Regions from separate parts of the Homo sapiens genome. Here region 2 is linked to region 1. The links come from fine-mapping of genetic effects on gene expression. A gene starts in region 1. The other region holds a variant in brackets. All regions are shown on one strand. Distances are between the middles of the regions. Region 1 holds the start of CLEC12B (C-type lectin domain family 12 member B). Region 2 overlaps LOC124902874 (a long non-coding RNA gene).

Region 1 (10,361 bases):
CTTTATAAATATATATATATAACATTTCAAGTTCTAGGGTACATGTGCACAATGTGCAGGTTTGTTACATATGTATACATGTGCCATGTTGGTATGCTGCACCCATTAACTTGTCATTTACATTAGGTGTATCTCCTAATGCTATCCCTCCCCACTCCCCCGACCCCACGACAGGCCCCGGTGTGTGGTAGGAACAACCCTCTTCTACCCAGTATTTCCCTGTCTCTTGTCTGAATCAAAGAGAAAGTGAAATGATCTAGTATATTTGAATTAAGGATTCACAGAATGTTAAGTATATCTACTATTGTACTTTCCAATTAAAATTACTATAAAACTTCATGGCAGGGACTATTAATTAATCATTTATTTGAACATATGTTTACTGATCACTGCAGATGTCCAAGGCACAATTCTATTTTCTGGGGACCAATGGTTAATGAATTATACAAGCATTTAGCTTATATTATAGTAGAAGGTGGTCAGCACAGATAGTAAAGAAACATAGAAAGCAAAGATCAAGATAATTGTATATCATGGAAAGTGTTATGAATGAAGAAAAGTGATATAATCGAGTTCTTCTGGACAGGCTCAAGCAGACCCTCGTTGTGCTCATGAGGATTGGTTTGTTTAAGCTTCACTGTCAGTGCTTGGACAATTGCCCAGGTTTCTTCCATTTTTAATATGATCCAGAATAATCCAAACTTGCTTCTACGATGACAGCTGCCATTTATTGCTCTTTCTATATGCTTTTATCAGTTATATTTGTGGCAGGAATTAAATTTATGACAGATTTACTATTAAGAAAAATAAAGCACAGAGGTTCAATAACTTGCCGAAAGCCACAAGGCAAGTAAGTGTTGCTCCAGGATTTGAATCAATTTGTCTGTCTTCATAGTGCTTCATTTTAATTGGGATATTTTATTATGCTGGTCAGGTATATTCACCTGATGGGGTAAATATATTAATACATTTCAAAATAAATTCCATCCTATATTCATCCTCTGTCTCCTTCTTGTGGCCATTTATTTTCCTTCTGCTTTTAGTTTATTTTTGTTTCCTTTAAGTCTTTGATACCTCTGGCTTTCATCTTCACTTTTCCCTATTTCTTTTTTGTAAATAATTCGGAATTAATTGTCATTCTTGCCATTCTCTGGGTACTTTCCCATTTAAACCCCACTTTAAAAGTGTCCTCTGAAATAGGCATGAAATGTGAGAACAGAAAGAACAGAGTGAGAATGAATCCTTCTGTCATGTTAACTCAATATTTCTTTTAAGATCTTCTAAATCAATAATACTTCCACATTTAATAACTGTGTTTCCATATTTTCCAAGGTGAACAATATTTTCTGACAAGTTTAATTCATGTGAGAGCAGCAAGAATTGTCAAAGGTGATTCCAAGTTTTTAGCTGAGAAACTGTACGTATGGAGTGTACATTTGTTAAGATGAAGAAACACATTGGGAAAAGGTACCCATTTTTTGATGTGTTAAGCTAGAAAATCCTATAATATATCAAAGTGAATATGCCAAGAATCCATTCAGATACGTGGTCCTGTAGATCAAGCGCTGGTATGGAGATAACAATTTTTGGACATTATCAATGTATGGCTGTTATCTCAAGGCACGAATCTATAAGAAATTAATTCCCATTCTGGCCATTCTCTGGGTACTATTCAATTTAGTTCATTCCAGGATAAGTTTTTTGTTTTTTTTTTAAGAAGACCAAGAATTGAACTCTAGGACACAACAACATCTTAAATTAATTTAAAGAGGAATCAGTTAATCTGAGGGAGGATTGGGTTGTGAGTGAAGCAAAAGGAAAACCAAGAGAATGGTGTCCTAGGGAACAAAGCATTTTGGAGAAGAAAGTTTGTCACGAAAAGTGAATAATCAGTTATTTAAAATTCTGTTTATACGATGTGTAAGATGAATCCTGAGAACTAGCCATTGGATGTGTTTATACTGAGGTAATGTTGACTTTAGCAGGAGTGTTTTTTAGAAATAGTGAAAGAAGGGCCAGGCGTGGTGGCTCACGCCTGTAATCTCAGCACTTTGGGAGGCCGAGGGGGACAGATCACGAGGTCAGGAGATCGAGACCATCCTGGCTAACACGGTGAAACCCCGTCTCTACTAAAAATACAAAAAATTAGCCGGGCGGGGTGGCAGGCGCCTGTAGTCCCAGTTACTCTGGAGGCTGAGGCAGGGGAATGGCATGAACCTGGGAGGCGGAGCTTGCAGTGAGCCGAGATCGCGCCACTGCACTCCAGCCTGGGCAACAGAGCTAGACTCTGTCTCAATAAAAAAAAAGAAAGAATAAAAATAAAAAAAGAAAAAAAAGAAATAGTGAAGGAAAAAGCCTAATTAGAATAGGTTTGGGAAGATCATAGAGAAATTTTTGAACCCATTTGTTGTTAAGAAAATTAGAGAAATGGAGTGATCATGTGTATGGTGTTACGGTGAACAAAAGATGGCTTCTGCTTGTTTTAATATAGGAGATATTATATCATCTTTGGAAGTGAACATAAGTGAACAAGTAGAGATGAAAAAAATGGAAAAATTGATAGAAAGAGAAAAAGAAGGAAAATTACAAGCTTGAAATCTTTAAGGAGATAGGTGGATGGATTTTAATATACAGATGGAGATTGATCTTAGATGAGTAGTACAATTCAACCACTGTTGAAAAGAATACTACCTCATATACTGATGTAGCTGTTTTGGTATATTTGACTAGTGAAACAGAGAAAACTTCTTTCTGAATTTCTTTTTTTTCTTAAGATAATGTTAATGGAAAAGCCAGGTTATCCGTTTAGTTTGTAGAAAGAGAAGACAGAAAGAAATTTGAGAGTCTGAGAAAGAAAAAGAGATTGGGAATAATCTTTTAGGAGATTTGCAGAACAGATTGATTAGTAAGAGTGCTGAGAAGTTACATTTCAAAAACGTAAGATAAAACCAGTTAATATGATCACATTCAGCTACTTGAATGTATGCACAGAGTAGGTAGGGTTGGATTTAAACAAGCTGCATTTTCTAGATGCTTATGATGAATGAAGAGGTAAGCAAGGAAGTTGTAGCTGTGGGTAAGAAAACGATTTTTATAATTGGCCCTGGTAAGTGGTGCATGCTGGGTATAATAGGAAATGAGACATGAGGGATTGACAACAATGAGAAGTTGGCATGGTCAGTGAAGTTGCTATCTCAGTGGGCACTGAAATGCTGTAGAGTGTAGAATACCCAGAGAGAGTGGGCTGGAAACATAGGAGGTGGAGGTCAGAGAGTGAAATATCTGAAACAGATCATGGAAGAATTTCTCATATTGGAAATGAAATTGTCTGCACTCTAGTGCAGTGCTGTTCAATAGCCACGTTGCTAATAATGGAAATGTTATTTACCTGCACTGTCCAATTGCATAGCCAATGCCACCTGTGGCTGTTAAGTACCTGAAGTATGACTAGTGTGACCTAGGAAATAAATTTTAAATTTAATTTAATTTTAATTAATTTAAGTTTAAATAGCAATTATATGCCTAGTGATTACTACGGTGAATAGCCTAGCTCTAAACTAGGATCATCTAGTGGGTGACTGATTTTTGTGTGTGAGCAACTGATTTCTGAGTGTGGGTAAGGTTATTGGAGGCAAATTCAAGAACTGAGAGCCCATAGTATTGGAATTATCACCTACCTGAATGTCGAAATCACATGATAATCATGATAGGAGTAGAGATCAATAAGATTTAAGATAGTTGAAAAAATAATGAAGAAATAAGGAGAATTTGGTAAATGACTGCAACAAAGTGAGTTTTTAAATAGTGTAACTGATAAAATAAGCTACAGAAATGCTGTAAGTTTTTAAGGGAGAAAAGTATATAAAGAAATGTCTAAATTAATATGATCATACACTAATAATGATAGATGATATAGCTTTTTGGATCATAATAATAGAAAGTATGTGAGAAGTGTTATCAATCTTCTCTTAGAAATAATTAGGAATCAGGTGACATTCTTCATCATTGTTCAAGCTAAGCATCATTTCATGGATAGTGAGAAGTTAATACTTTGTTAGGAAGCTTTAAGGTATGTGAAAGAATTAAGGAAATGAGGATGAAAACCCAGTTTTTGCAAAATCTGGTGAAAGTCATGAGACGTGAGGCCAGCCAGACTTCCTGAATCGAGTGGGGACTCAGGGAACTTTCCTGTCTTACAAGAGGATTGTAAAACGCACCAATCAGTGCCACGTAAAACGCACCGATCAGCGCTCTGTAAAACGCACCAATCAGCAGGATTCTAAAAGTAGCCAATTGCGGTGAGGATTGAAAAAAGGTCAGTCTGATACGACAGAAACGGAACATGGAGGGGACAGTAAGGAAATAAAAGCTAGCCACCCCAGCCAGCAGCAGCAACCCGCTTGGGACCCCTTCCATGCTGTGGAAGGTTTGTCATCCTGCTCTTCACAATAAACCTTGCTACCACTCAGTCTTTGGGTCCGTGCCATCTTTAAGAGGTGTAACCCTCACCGCAAAGGTCCGCGGCTTCATTTTTGAAGTCAGCGAGACCAGGAACCCACCGGCAGGAACCAACTCCGGACACGGACCAGAACAGAGATAGAAAACCATTCTTAATTTCTTATTTTTGTAATCATCTATTTAAACTGGTCCTCATGTCAATGGTCTCTGCCTTTTCTGAATTCAACTAGAATAGTAAACATAAGCATAGATTTATTATTTGTTTCAATATTTTTGATAGTGGAGTTTTATTGATATATGACTTAGAGCCTCCAAACATTTTTTTGATTATTTCATCAATTTGAAAAAAAAAAAAACAAAAAACATGAACAAGTAACATATGTATATTTAGGTGTTTAGAGATCATGCACAGCGTTCCTAAAGAGAAAGTTTTTACATTGCCTTTCTGCATCTGCTTCACAGCTGTGGGGTGAGTGCACCTCACGCTGGACACCTTTGACTAAGATAATCTCCACACAGATATGAACCTTGGAAGTTTTAGATCACTCCCCACTCATCTGAAACCACAAAACTCATACCCAATCCTTCCCCTAAGTACAGTTATCTAATATTCTGCCTCTCCCCAAAGGAAAGCTTTAGAGGAGATTCCTTAATTTCGTCCCTCATATATAGCGCTCCCCCCCCATATTTTCCTGGGTTCTGTATTAACTACATATTGCTGCTGTAACAAATTACCACAGATGTATTAACTTCCGGTAGTTATCTTTTTAAAATCTTGTCCTGTGTATTCCTTGCTGTCTGCAGGATTATCCCATGGTTGTTGTTCTGTTAGGAACTTTCCCAACCATGCCAGAAGAGGGCACTCCCATTCATACTCACGTTAAGTAGCTAAGTAGCTATCAGTTTCTTCTCCATGCTCCATTACCAACACCATGTCTCTCTCTCTCTGTCTCTCTCTCTCTGTCTCTCTCTGTCTCTCTCTCACACACACACACACACACACACACACACACACACACGCTTGAATTTTCTATAATAGCAGCCAGGTGTGTGGCACAGCTCTTTCTGTCTTAATGTGTGTCTCTCTGCTTAATATCTAATGTGGCTGAGAATAAACTAGAACCAATGTCTCCAGGCAGATTAGCTAGCCTTAGATAGATGTAAAGAAGACAACCTGACTCTTTTCTGAAACATTCAGAGCATCCTCTACCCCGAGGATCATGGGAATTCCCTCATGTTCCTCCTGCTCTGCCTCAAGCACCCCTTCTTTGCTGCACAGCAAGAAACAGTTCTGACAGAGCAGACAGTTTGAGATCTGTAACATTCTAATGAGAATATCTCTAAGGAGAATATTTGGCTTTTCTCACTTTCTCTGTAGAGAAACAAATTGTCATTCTTCTCTTACAGAGGGGCAGTAGAGTGTGTCTGGGTCAGCTGAGTGACTACATCAAAGCTCCCAGCCTTGAAAAACACATGCTGTTCCCAGGCCTCAAGATATTGAAACATTAATTAGATAATTTAAAGTAGCGTTTTCTTCTACAATGTCTGAAGAAGTGACCTACGCGACACTCACATTTCAGGATTCTGCTGGAGCAAGGAATAACCGAGATGGAAATAACCTAAGAAAAAGAGGTAGGAGTTCAGAGAAGACCAGCTGTGTCCTTGGGGGAGTGGACAGGTGTTAAATGCTTTGAGGTGCCAGCTTTAATACTGGCGTTAAAGACATGTGCTGTGAAATCTCCAAAATGGGGACAAATAGTTGTGGAATGTATTAGAAAAGTGAGTGTTCCCAAGGTTGAAGTGAAAATATGTGGCTTTCAGAACCTCTTTAAAGTTGTGTGATATCACACAGTCAGAGAAATTCTGACTGCACATGCCAGAAATTGAGCTTGGGGAATTAGAGATTTCTTCTTATGAATATAATCCTTGATATTTATACCTTGTTAGAGATGCCAGGAGGATATTCTTTCAGAAACCAGATTGGAGGCTTCTAAAATAGAGAAGGTAGAGGACGTTTTTCTTTTAGATGATGTAAGTTACTTAAGAGAAAACTGGAAGATGAGTGAGTGGATTAGAAATAGATCAGAGCTAATTTTTCTTTTGTCAGTATTTTTTCAAATTTTAGGGTAGTTGAAATCCGAGCATAATTTGTAATGTTGAACCAGTAATAATAGTATCTGGGTAGTATTTTATGTACATTATATACAGATATAATTGTAATGAAAATCCACAATAATATTCGAATATTAGTATTTTCTCCATTACATAGATGAAAAAACTGAGGGTGAGAGAAATTAGATAATTTAAGCAAGCTCACACAACTGCTATGTGGGGAAGCCCAGTCTCAGTGCTGGTCTTCAGCTCATTCTCTTATGCCTAATTGGAAAAATAGCAGTCTCCATGGTCAAGACTCTGATTTAATATATAAGACCACATCTCTTATTTTCAGATATGTTAACTATCCAGGTTCTCCTGAATCATGTCAGTCATCTGAACTACTTTCTCCTGCCCTCTAGATTTATCTTTACATTTTGTGTGGTGCATGACATTTGAGGGAAGGATATTTACAAAAAGCCGATGGGAATAGACTTTGCATATGTCTAATAAATGTGGTTACACATTTTTGCCTTGTTTTGTTTTACTTTTTAATTCTAATTCTAACCTGTGAGGAAAAAGGAGGTGTGGATATGGTGCATATCACAGTGTACCTAGAGTCTGTCATGCTGTATCTAAAACATTGCGCTAGATGTTATTTGGACCTAAATCAAGGGATATGAAGCTAAGGAAAACATGACAACCATTGATATTTTAAACAACAACAATGACTAGGATGCTAACGGCTTTCTGGTCTATTCTGCTGTTTGTAGGTTAGACTGCACATTCTTTCCTTCTTTCATTCAGTATTCATTCATTATTTATTAGGTGATAAATAGCATGAATAATAGATAAGTTATTGTTAACAGGTAAAAGATACTTTAAAAAGTCGAATCCACTTTTACAAGGCAGATAGAACATGTGCCTTATAGAGACTTTTGAGCTCAAAAGCTTGAGGTGTCTCCTACTGTCAGCATCATCCAGAAAAGCAGTTTTTAGATCTCTCATTTATGAATTCAATAAACTTGAGGAAGAAAAGTGGGCAATGATGTAAAACAAAAACCTTGAAATTAGGAGAAGCTTCCTTTTTATTTTATTATTATTATACTTTAAGTTTTAGGGTACATGTGCACAATGTGCAGGTTAGTTACATATGTATACATGTGCCATGCTGGTGTGCTGCACCCATTAACTCGTCATTTAGCATTAGGTATATCTCCTAAAGGTATGCCTCCCCCCTCCCCCAACGAAGCTTCCTCTTAAAGTGAAGGAGAGCGGTGGAGAAATGGAGGGGAAACAAGGATGGCACCCTCATTGCACTTCATATTAGGTATTTTCTAAATGAGGGCATTAAAGAAGCAAGAAAGAAACGTTAGTATCGGGAAGCTCCCTAAGTGGGAGAAATAAACAAACCAAAGTGAAACAAGCACAAAGCAGTTCTGTGTGCTGATTGCTCTTTTGGCTTTCTCCAGGGCATCCAGCTCCATCTCCCATTTGGCGTCATGCTGCTCTGGGTCTGGTAACTCTTTGCCTGATGTTGCTGATTGGGCTGGTGACATTGGGGATGATGTGTAAGTATATCAGCATCAAACCCAACAAAGGCAACTAGAAAACATATTGTAAACCATGTACTTTCAGCTTGGATTGTAGATGGGTCCTAGCATCCTGAATCGTCTGATACTTTTCTGCTGTCTCATATCTCTCCTATTCGTCATATCTTCCCAAAAAACCGGCAAAAGACATTATCAGGATTTGGTTCTAAATTCATTGTTTTATCTTGATAAGCTAAACTGGACTTAGACAAAGACTCTTTGTTTCCAGTTATTCATTAGAATAAAGAGCCTCTTTTCTGCCTAGACACACATTCACTTATCATTCCAATGCTGAGAAATAAAGTCAAGAAATATGTATTGAAGGAAGTGCTTGCTATTTTTATTTACCTGAAAGACTTAACACTAGACTAGGTTCAGTCTGCTTACATGAAACTTCTCTAGTGGAGAGAAATCTTCCAAGTAGCAGCAGCAGCCTGATTTCTATGAATGAGAAAGACATATAAACAAAGAGGAAGAGTGGCCTGATACACCTTACCAAGTAAGAGAGTTGAACCATCTCCACATGACAATGGAAGCTCCACTCTCAAGCACCACAGCCACAAAGGAACATTCTATTGATTCTGACCCATCCTCGGGAAGTTGGGGATGAACATGGTAGGGAGTTCTTGAGTAATGAGAAAAACATCCTGAGAATACAAACTTTATAGGGTTGTTAAGTATATGGTATACAGAGTAGTGAATTGGCATGGTATTCGCTTACAGGGAACTCACAGTCAAGAAAGTTAATTTGCTGAATGATACTAACATCTCCTCTGCTACATTCATTTCTTTTTAATGATTTAATGGATAATTTTTTAGGATTTAATGGTTAATTAGGATTTGGACATATCTTTGCCAACATAAAAAGAGACTAATGATGTACCTTGCTCTTTTGAAAAGGAATATGATGTTCAAGCAGCAGTAACAGATATTCTGGAGCCAATCAGTATGAGGATTAGCAGCCGATCTTCTACAATAATGTATATTTAAAAATTAAGTGAAAATGCAATAACGTACGTCCATTGGTTCGATATAGAAGGGTGACATTTCTTTTCTAAAATTTAGTGCTTTTGGTGCAGTGGTTCTTAAATTTGTTGTGCTGATGAAGCACCTTAAATGCTTATGAAAAGGGCATATTTCATGGACCCATGACGAGAAATGGTCTGATATGCCATTAAGATCTGCTTTTTCTTTTCTTTTGGTAAACAAGCATCTCAGGTCATCTGCAGAGTTTGAGATATCCATTGTCCCAAAGAATGCTGTTTTCATTAAAACAACAATTACATCATCTATCTCCAAATAAAATAAAACAAAAATAAAACAATTTCATGAAAATGAGTGGCAGAATGACTGGCCCTTCCTTAGATGTGATGTCAGAAATATATCATTATTAAATCATTATTTTAATATAGTGCAATAATAAAAATGTAAATAAAATTATAAAGAACTATAAATAATTTGGAATAGAAAGGCATCTGGTTTGTTTCTTTCATGATACCTCAAATACTAAGAGCTACTAATAAATCTTGAACAATTAAGAAATGTTTCTGTCACGAGAATTATCTACAGTTATAAGAATAGAAGAATATATGAACTTGTCTCCTGTCATGTCTTGGAGTTTTGCAGATATCTAATGACATTAACTCAGATTCAGAGAAATTGAGTCAACTTCAGAAAACCATCCAACAGCAGCAGGATAACTTATCCCAGCAACTGGGCAACTCCAACAACTTGTCCATGGAGGAGGAATTTCTCAAGTCACAGATCTCCAGTGTACTGAAGAGGCAGGAACAAATGGCCATCAAACTGTGCCAAGAGCTAATCATTCATACTTCAGGTAATCAGACTTAGTCCTGCTGACCAGTCAGATGGCATATGTTATCCTGGTCTAAGTTGATCACATGTACCACCTAAGAGTATTGAGAGAGTTATGTCATCCAGTGAACCTTAATGATGTTGCACTAAATTTACACACAGCAAGGAAATATACAAATTCATTTAATATTTTTGAAACCACAGGCAAATTTGGGAAGTATCTTGGAATGATATCAATCTGGATACTTCAACCCCTCATTTTATTAACTATTTCTAGGTGATCATGTTGCTCTGAAAGCTTAAAGGCATAGCTGGTAATTCTGAGGTCAGAAGACTAAGCCATGAAAAGAGAATCCCTGTTGCCCCAACCCATAACCAGGGGTCACTTTTTTTTCAGAGGCT
Region 2 (10,361 bases), 52 kb before region 1:
GACCCCGTCTGGGAGGTGAGGAGCGTCTCTGCCCGGCCGCCCCGTCTGAGAAGTGAGGAGACCCTCTGCCTGGCAACCACCCCGTCTGAGAAGTGAGGAGCCCCTCCGCCCGGCAGCCGCCCCGTCTGAGAAGTGAGGAGCCTCTCCGCCCGGCAGCCACCCCATCTGGGAAGTGAGGAGCGTCTCCGCCCAGCAGCCACCCCGTCCGGGAGGGAGGTGGGGGGGGTTAGCCCTCCGCCCGGCCAGCCGCCCCATCCGGGAGGGAGGTGGGGGGTCAGCCCCCCGCCTGGCCAGCCATGCCGTCCGGGAGGGAGGTGGGGGGGTCAGCCCCCTGCCCGGCCAGCCGCCCCGTCCAGGAGGTGAGGGGCGCCTCTGCCCGCCCCCCCCTACTGGGAAGTGAGGAGCCCCTCAGCCCGGCCAGCCACCCCGTCTGGGACGGAGATGGGGGGTCAGCCCCCCCGCCCAGCCAGCTGCCCCGTCCGGGAGGGAGGTGGGGGGGTCAGCCCCCCGCCTGGCCAGCCGCCCCGTCCGGGAGGGAGGTGGGGGGGTCAGCCCCCCGCCTGGCCAGCCGCCCCGTCCGGGAGGGAGGTGGGGGGGGTCAGCCCCCCCGCCCAGCCAGCCGCCCCGTCCGGGAGGTGAGGGGCGCCTCTGCCCGGCCGCCCCCTACTGGGAAGTGAGGAGCCCCTCTGCCTGGCCAGCCGCCCCGTCCGGGAGGGAGGTGGGGGGGTCAGCCCCCTGCCCGGCCAGCCGCCCCGTCCGGGAGGTGAGGGGCGCCTCTGCCCGGCCGCCCCTACTGGGAAGTGAGGAGCCCCTCTGCCCGGCCACCACCCCGTCTGGGAGGTGTGCCCAGCAGCTCATTGAGAACGGGCCAGGATGACAATGGCGGCTTTGTGGAATAGAAAGGCGGGAAAGGTGGGGAAAAGATTGAGAAATGGGATGGTTGCCGTGTCTGTGTAGAAAGAAGTAGACATGGGAGACTTTTCATTTTGTTCTGCACTAAGAAAGATTCTTCTGCCTTGGGATCCTGTTGATCTGTGACCTTACCCCCAACCCTGTGCTCTCTGAAACATGTGCTGTGTCCACTCAGGGTTAAATGGATTAAGGGCGGTGCAAGATGTGCTTTGTTAAACAGATGCTTGAAGGCAGCATGCTCGTTAAGAGTCATCACCAATCCCTAATCTCAAGTAATCAGGGACACAAACACTGCGGAAGGCCGCAGGGTCCTCTGCCTAGGAAAACCAGAGACCTTTGTTCACTTGTTTATCTGCTGACCTTCCCTCCACTATTGTCCCATGACCCTGCCAAATCCCCTCTGTGAGAAACACCCAAGAATTATCAATAAAAAAAAAAAAAAAAAAAAAAAAAAAATCAAACTGTCAGCTGGGCGCAAGAAACTGAGGTGGGCAGATACTTGAGCCCAGGAGTTCGAGACCAGCCTGGGCAACATGGTGAAACCCTGTCTCTACAAAAAATACAAATATTAGCTGGGTGTAATGGTGCATACCTGTAGTCCCAGCTACTCAGGAGGCTGAGGTGGGAGGATTACCTGAGCCTGGGAGGTTGAGGCTGCAGTGAGCCTTGATCACACCACTGCACTTCCAGCCTGGGTGACGGAGATCCTGTCTCAAAAAAAAAAATAATCAAACTATCATGGAAACTGCTTTATTCAAAATTTTGTTTCACAACCTTTATTGGATTACCTATCAGAACAAATAAAGTTCAACCATGTGAACATGTTCATAAACCAGTGAGTTTGCATTGCTATCTCATGGCTGGAATTTAAAGGTAAAAGCTATTGGATCTTTGTGTGTATGTAGGTATATGTGTCTAGATGTTACGTGTTGTTTTTAGAGGGTAGCAAATTGGCTTATAAATTAAAAAGCGTTCATAAATTAAGTAAATGAGTCTAAGCATTTTTCAAGTTTACATGACTTAAGTAAATCTTTAATAAACAAGAGAGCTTTTAGATCATTTGTAAAATAAAAATAGAAATGCCTTTGGAATTGTCAGCATACTTTTTTTGTTTGGGTTTTACATTTGTCTCTGCTAGATATTTAAAGGTGTCAGGGTTTGACAAAGAGATTATAAGACTATAAACCCAGCCAAGAACAAAATTATCTTTGTGTGATTTTTTGATAAATAAGACTAATTTAATGTCGTTAGGTTAATAAAAATAGCTGAAACTTTTGCATTATTGGTGCAAGTATCCATGTATTTTACTTTATGTTTCTTTTTTTTAAAAACGGAGTCTCACTCTGTCGCCCAGGCTGGAGTGCAGTGGCCCGATCTCGGCTCACTGCAAGCTCTGCCTCCCGGGTTCACGCCATTCTCCTGCCTCAGCCTCCTGAGTAGCTGGGACCACAGGCGCCCGCCACCACGCCCGGCTAATTTTTTGTATTTTTTAGTAGAGAAGAGGTTTCACCATGTTAGCCAGGATGGTCTTGATCTCCTGACCTCATGATCCTCCTGCCTCAGCCTCCCAAAGTGCTGGGATTACAGGTGTAAGCAATCATGCCCAGCCAACTTTATGTTTCTTACTTAGGTGAACATCTAATATATACAAGTTATAAAAATGGTTAACAAGGAAATAATGAATAGCTTTGATATCTCTTTTCTCATAAGTAATATAGATAATTGCTAAAAAAGTGAATGAAATATAAATGGCATAAATGCTCTAAGTGAACTTTTTGTGTAATTTAATATCTTGAAGTTATTTTGGATGCTCATGAGATGTGTGGGTCATTTCCAATTATGAAAGGGTTTCAATACAGAAAGTTAAATGATGTAAAAACCTTAATTCCTTTAAATCTCAGTTTTCCTAAGCAATCAAAAACCCAATAACAATGACATAGAAATTATTTTGATAAAATGTAAAATTTGTTTCTCAGGTCAGTTACCAAAAGGCAAAGAAAAACCTCCTGCAGTGTGATTGCTTCTCCTATCAGAGTCCCATCTCGAAAACCTGAAAATCAAACCTGATAAATGATGTAGACATATCAAGAAAAGCCAAGAGGACAGAATCAAGCTATACTGGAGGAAAACGTTGCTTCTCTAGAATTTTAAAATAAATATTTCAGCATCAGACCATGACAGCAGTTAAGGCAAGAGGGAAAAAAAAGATACAAGAACTGACAAAGTTGAAGGAGATAGTTTCATTTCAGGTTCCTTCAAGGGGAGACAAGCTGACAGCAACAAAACACAAGAAAGCTGCACTTTGGAGATATAGATCTGAGAAGTATTCAAAAAGTAACAGATTATAGAGTCAAAATCAAAACCTCTCATCCAATCAATATTTTAAGAAAACCTTGTTCTAACCCAGGGGACTAATCTATATCTCTCTCCCCTAGTTACTGGATCCTTTCTACCCTGTTTCATAAACAACCTAAGTCTATAATTTGAATTAACCTTTAGATAACTTCTGAGTTAAACAAAATTATTTCTTTAATCAATAAGAACACATCTTCTTTGGCACATTGTACATGGAATCATACAATTTGCTGGAATTCTTATTCTTAGTAATCCTAAATTTTAATGGAAACCTAGGAAGCAAGAAATCCTGGGCTGTCTATCAGATATTAACATTTTATAGATGAGAAACATGAATGTTCTCAGGCCCAGAAAACTCAAGTTGTTTTGGGACCTCAAGAAAAGAGGAATTCACCCAATTCATACAGGTATCTGCAAGCACAGATCAATTATTGGTTGTGCTCGAGAGGCCTTTAAAAATCAAATCTGAGATTCCTTATGAAAAGTTCCAGCAAAGCCAATTTAAAAAAGCCTATATGAACAATAATTCTTGCTTCAGTTTATGCAAATAATCAGGCAAACTATAATAAGATTAAAACAGATTTTGCAAATAAATTGGTCCTACTGTGATTTGCCTTTCATGGAAATGGGGAGCTGGAGAGAGAAACATTATGTTTTGGAAGAAAACTGCAGTACACCTGTTATTAGATTAATCTTTGACCTATGGCAACCTGGTCATCCATGGTATGGAGATACATCTGTGCTGTGCTGCATTCAGTTATTAAAAGTATAAGTTACCAGTGGAATTTAGATATGGATTCATCACCTCAGAAGTTGGTTCACTGGATGCATAAGGAAATAAAAACTAATTTTTAAAAAAGCAAAATTTTCAATCCCTTGGTTTTTGTTATCGATATAAACCAAAATGTATCTGAGGTAGGTCTCAATTAATTTCAAAGTTTATTTTGCCAAGGGTAGGGATATGTGCCTGAAACACAAGTCTGTGCCTTTCTCCAAAGATGCTTTTGAGGGCTTCAATATTTAAAGGGGAAAGGGCAGATATTGGGGAAAGAGGAAGAAATTTTAAAAAGGTGTGGGTAGGGCGGTGGCTCATGCCTGTAATCCCAGTAATTTGGGAGGCCAAGGTGGGCAGATCACCTGAGGTCAGGAGTTTGAGACTAGCCTGACCAACATGGACAAACCCCATCTCTACTAAAAATACAAAAATTAGCTGGGTGTGGTGGTGCACGGCTGTAATCCCAGCTACTCAGGAGGCTGAGGCAGGAGAATCACTTGAACTCGGGAGACAGAGGTTGCAGTGAGCCAAAATCGTGCCACTGCATTCCAGCCTGGGTGATGACAGAGTGAGACTTCATCTCAAAAAAAAAAAAAACAAAAAAACAAAAAAAAGGTGTGGGTAGATAAGAGACAAATGGTTGTATTCTTTTGAGATTTTGATCAGACTTTCACTAAATACACAATTACATGTGAGAGTGGGGTAAAGAAATAGTCACTTATGCCTCAGTCTAGATCAGTGAATCTGCATTTTTATACAAACGAAAGGGCAGAGGAAGCAATCAGATATGCATTTGTTTCAGATGAGCAGAGGGTTGACTTCAAGTTCTATCCTTTGTCCCATACCTGTGAAGATAAGCTATCAATTTACATTGCCAGGGTGAAATTCAATCGAATAAAATGGGAGCCAGGTTTGCCTGACACAATTCCCAGCTTGACTTCTCTCTTTGGCTTAGTGATTTGGGGACCCCAAGATTTATTTTCCTTTCACATCTGTAATAGCTAAAATTAAAGTAGGAGAATATTGGGTCAGGCTTTGAGGCCAAACCAAGCCTAGATGTGGGTCTGTCTGAACTCAGATCACTAGCCTCAAGGCTGCTCATGAAGAAGAAAATTATGCCAGGAAACCAGAAAGTACCTCTGAGATCTGTGGTTTCCTGGAAGGTAGTCAATGTGGGGAAGGAGTGAATTAAAGTGACTTCTGAAACTAGAGGGTATAATGTGAAGGAATTGTTCTATTTTGCAAATCAGTATCATTAGCTTCCTGAACCTTTACTAAAATAAATTGTGAGAGTAATTACTTTAGGCACAATGTCTTTGGTTTTAAATGCTGCAGAGTGGAAGATCCGGTTGATACAGAACCCACGGCTCACAATTGAACAGTTGCAGATGGGTACATATAATCCGGGCACACAGGAGGTTATTCCCAAAAGAACAGCCTACTTGGTGGACTGGATAAAACACTGTGAGAACTATTTACTCTGAGAAGGAGAATTGTCCCACTCCACCTATAAATGCCAAGTGGAGCACTCCAGATGAAGCAACAGATATGCTTCAAATGTAAGCCACGGGGGACTGGCTTTATAATGATGTGGCAGGCCAGGTCACTAATGCAGGCCTCCATAACAACTGTTTCAGTACTGACTGAGTGGTTAAGTTAAATGTTAAAAGGTAAAAAAGCCAGTGGCCTTAT[A/G]CAAACTCTGGATTGTAACAAAAGCCCACCACGAGTTTTGCCTAGGACTTTCCTGGGGCTTGGACCCATGACAAGATAATGAAGGAATTCTTAACAGGACCAGATTAGGATTAAACAAGTTTTACCGGCAGTCTGAAGAAACTTCCCAGGCTTCCACAGACAAGTTTATTGGAGATCTCAAGGAAGTTCCCAAACCTCCATGATTTAGCAGGAGACAAGATAGGGTAATCACCCCAGCACCTGGACCCATATAGATTAAGTAAATTTACTAAGCCTCCAGAGGAAGGTCTTCAGAACTCAGATCTCAGTTATAGATTACAAGAAGTTAATCACTCATGTTTTTAGATGAATGCACTTACACACAGACATATAACTTAGAAGGTAATAAGCTCTGGAAGACTTTGTAATTTTGAGTTGGTCTGGCAATATTTTCCAGGCCTTCTCCCTATAACTTGTTAAAGAAATAAAAACTCTTCCTCCCCAGTTCATCTGCATCTTGTTACTGGGCTGGAAGAAATAGCAGTCTGACCCTCAGTTTGGTCCAGGAACAATGATAGAAATATTAACTTGGCTGGGCGTGGTGGCTCACTCCTGTGATCCCTGCACTTTGGGAGGCTGAGGCGGGTGGATCACATGAGGTCAGGAGTTTGAGACCAGCCTGGCCAACATGATGAAACCCCATGTCTACTAAAAATACAAAAAATTAGCTGGGCGTGGTGGCGGGCACCTGTAACCCCAGCTACTCTGGAGGCTGAGGCAGGAGAATCTCTTGAACCAGTGAGGCGGAGGTTGCAGTGAGTAGAGATTGTGCCACTGCACTCCAGCCTGGGAGAGAAGAGCGAAACTCTGTCTCAAAAAAAAAAAAAAAGAAGAAAGAAATATTAACCTTACTTTTTGGTTTTTGGCTCTTTCGTTGCTTTGAGTTTTAATGGTAATGAGTCCCTGGCACCTCTATTCTTGTGTGGCCTAGAATGTTTAATTGACTATAAGTCTTTTTTGACTCTAAGTCCCTTGGTTACAGGGGTCCCACTGACGAACAGGATGGACTCGGGGCAGGTAGTCATACCACCTTGGAAATGATATGGAACAAAATAAAGTTTGGCAATCAATGCTCCCTCTGGCATATTCCAAGGAGACCTCAGTTTCCAAGAGATAAATCTTACCTGGGAAAAGGTCTTGCCCCTTGCCCTGCTGAGGGTACTGGTAGCTCCCAGAAATGGATTAGCTCTTAGCCCCTTTCAAAATGTTTACTTGGAGACTGTTTTCCTGGACTCTCTGATGCTTGAGGATTTTTTCCTCCCCTGAAACAGAAGCTATGTCATACATGAAACAATTAGGGAATATATTAACTAGTCTCTCCAACAGACTTCATTTCTGTATGGACTTGCCTCTTCCCTGTTTGAAACCAGGGAATCGAATCATACTGAAGACCTGGAAATCCCATCAGGCTGAAGACTAGCTGCAACCACAATAGGTCAGTCTTTTTAAGGTGCTGCTGACCACCCACTCGTCTATCAAGTTAGCCAGTGTTAAACCATGAATTCAACATACTCAGTAAAACTAGTCACTGTGGGATCCCTCCAGGGGAAACAGTCATGCTCTTGTGAACCTATACATGGCCTTAAGTTAATATTGAAAGCCCAGCCAAAGATCCTAGATAAGAAACTGTAAAAGGAATATGCATTTTTCAGTTATTATTCTCTTTAAACCCACAGCTTTTCACATATAAGATATAATGAATCAGGAATACTTTTTGGTAGGCTTAGGATTGTTCTCTTGGATTCCCCAAGGGATCCACTCCAAATTCTCTGGTATTTTAAAATTGGTTTATCTATATTATTTATCATCCTTGTTCAATGTGGCCTAAAACGTTGTTCTAAAACTGAAATAAAAGTACCCAGATCATAGTGCTCCAATGACTACTTCTGATTATAGTGCCACATTTCCATTCCTTATCATTATTCCACCTCACACGTCCTCAGCATGAAGCAGCCAGAAGGATCAATGACCAGATTCTCCATGATTGAGGAAGTGATAAATAGAAAAGAGAGACTGAAACCGGCCCCGTTATCTTATAGAACTAATATTTACAGTTGTTTTTGTTTGTTTTGCTTTGGAACATAGAAATGGACCCTGTCTGGTCTTAAAACTTGAAACTTGTTTGTTTTCCTGAGTTTCTTGCTTAGAAAACCGACTTTCAGGCAAGGAACTGAAACTCATCAGAGCACCACACCCAGGCAATGAGACTGCAGATCCTTCACCCAGCATGATTTTTTCCCTACCTCTGCCTAATTTCTATTTTTCCCCTGTCCACGTAGCATCAAACTCTGTAAAATATTTGAAGAGATTTATTCTGAGCCAAATATGAGTGACCATGCCCGTGACACAGCCCTCAGGAGGCCCTGCGAACATGCACCCAAGGTGGTTCAGGTACACATTGGTTTTGTACATTTTAGGGAGACACGAGGCTTCAATCAACTATAAACATTTACTGATTGGCAATTGGTTGAGTTTATCTAAAGGTCTGGAATCAATAGAAAAGAAATGTCTGGGTTGTGGTAAGAGGTTGTAGAGACCAAGGTTTTATCATGCAAATGAAGCCTCCAGACAGCAGACTTGAGAGAGACTTAAGTATTAATGCCTGAGAGATATAATGAAGCGTGTTCGACACGCACTTCCTGTCATGGCCTGAACCCATCTCTCAGGTTAAATTTTCAAAGAGCTGTGGTTGAAGAGGGAGTCCATTCAGATGGTTGAGGGGCCTTAGAATTTCATTTTTGGTTTACACTCCCCACACAGCTACATTTCTGCCTGCACATAGCTACATTCCTTCCTCACTATATAACCTCCCAATTTTAGTTTGTTGGAGAACAAAGCCAGAATAAAGCCAATCCTAGTCATAGCATTGCAACTTGTATCAGATGAAAGAAACCTACAAAAAGATAATTATAAAATTTAGATAAAATGTATAAAACAACTGAGAAGGCAAAATTTGAGGGGCTCCAATTAATCAAGGTTTACCGCTTATATTCTGTGTGACTGCCAGAAAAAAAGAAACAAAACTTTTTGGTAGGAAGATCATTTAAAATTTCTGTTTTTAATACATAAGGCCTGTTATTTAATAAAAAATTATGAGACAACCTAAAAAAAAAGAATTAAATATCAAAACACCAATTGACAAGCCAAATGATAAAAACTGGCCTACATATGGTTCAGAAAATGATTTCAATAAATCTACTCTTCACCATTCTAATCCCTTTGCAGTGCCCTAGGATGGTGACTGACTCTCATGTATAATATCCCTGGACACTATTGTCCTGAAGCTCTAGGTATGTTTGTGCTAATAGGAAGAATAGGCAAAAGATTTAAAGGTGGGAGAATCCTTCCCTACAGCACTAGGAAATGGATATGGAGTTGTTCTCGCTGAGTGTACCTCCAGGGAGGCAGCCTTCATCAGCTATAGTTTCTGCTGCTTCAGTTAATTGCTACCAGCAATGTTCTCTCAGGCCTAATGTAGTAATGGCTTCCGGCAGTAGCTAGCCCTGGGGTATTTCACTATCCCTCATGGTTTCCTTTGGTCTTATCTCTATCTTGTAAATTGTCCTGTTATTTTATCTTCTTAAATTTTCCTTTTAATGTATAACCGGTTTTTTCTTTTTTTTTTTTTTTTTTGGATCCCAAGTGTGTGTTTCTTTTTGGTACCTGAGTATATCACTGTCACTGTGGTCTCTCAACTTTTAAATTATGTGACTCTGAAGGTGTGTGTCTCCAAATTTTTATCCCTGTGCACTTTTCTTCACCTGTCTTCATTTCTTTCCCTTTTTTCCGTTATAACTTTCACTCACATCCGTGTGAAGAGACCACCAAACAGGCTTTGTGTGAGCAACAAGGCTGTTTATTTCACCTGGGTGCAGGTGGGCTGAGTCCGAAAAGAGAGTCAGCGAAGGGAGATAGGGGTGGAGCTGTTTTATAAGATTTGGGTAGGTAGTGGGAAATTACAGTCAAAGGGGGCTTGTTCTCTGGCGGACAGGAGTGGGGGCCACAAGGTGCTCAGTGGGGGAGCTTTTGAGCCAGGATGAGCCAGGAGAAGGAATTTTATAATGTCATCAGTTAAGGCAGGAACAGACCATTTTCACTTCTTTTGTAGTGGAATGTCATCTGTTAAGGCAGGAACCGGCCATCTGGATGTGTATGTGCAGGTCACAGGGGATAGGATGGTTTAGCTTGGGCTCAGAGGCCTGACATTCCTGTCTCCTTATATTAATAAGAAAATAAAAATGAAATAGTGGTAAAGTGTTGGGACGGCAAAAATTTTGGGGGCTTGGTATGGAGAGATAACGGGCGATATTTCTCAGGGCTGCTTCCAGCGGGATTAGGGGCGATGTGGGAACCTAGAGTGGGAGAGATTAAGCTGAAGGAAGATTTCATGCTAAGGGGTGATATTGTGGAGTTGCTAGAAGAAACATTTGTCATTTAGAATTATTCGTGATGGCCTGGATACGGTTTTGTATGAATTGAAAAACTAAACAGAATAAGAGAAGGAGAAAAACAGGTATTAAAGGACTAAGAATTGGGAGGACCTAGGACATCTAATTAGAGAGTGTCCAAGGGGGTTCAGCATAATTAC

The links. PIP is the estimated chance that this variant, and not a neighbour inherited with it, causes the effect.
Region 2: its variant is fine-mapped to the expression of CLEC12B in whole blood (INTERVAL, PIP 0.97). The same link has a PIP of 0.9 or more in monocytes.

Annotation. Positions count from the first base shown.
Region 1 is chr12:10,004,761-10,015,121 of GRCh38, forward strand. CLEC12B (C-type lectin domain family 12 member B) reads left to right here and starts at 5,867. Exons shown (of 6, transcript NM_001129998.3): 1 at 5,867-6,090; 2 at 8,025-8,123; 3 at 9,763-9,981. The coding sequence starts at 6,000. LOC102724020 (a long non-coding RNA gene) reads right to left here. Exons shown (of 4, transcript NR_169587.1): 4 at 10,126-10,361. It also overlaps a transcript of CLEC12A not described here.
Region 2 is chr12:9,952,866-9,963,226 of GRCh38, forward strand. It overlaps LOC124902874 (a long non-coding RNA gene), which reads left to right. Exons shown (of 2, transcript XR_007063207.1): 1 at 1-172; 2 at 2,889-4,132. It overlaps CLEC12A-AS1 (CLEC12A antisense RNA 1), which reads right to left and starts at 472. Exons shown (of 3, transcript NR_135047.1): 1 at 1-472. It also overlaps a transcript of CLEC12A not described here. The variant A/G (reference allele first, on the strand shown) is at 5,735.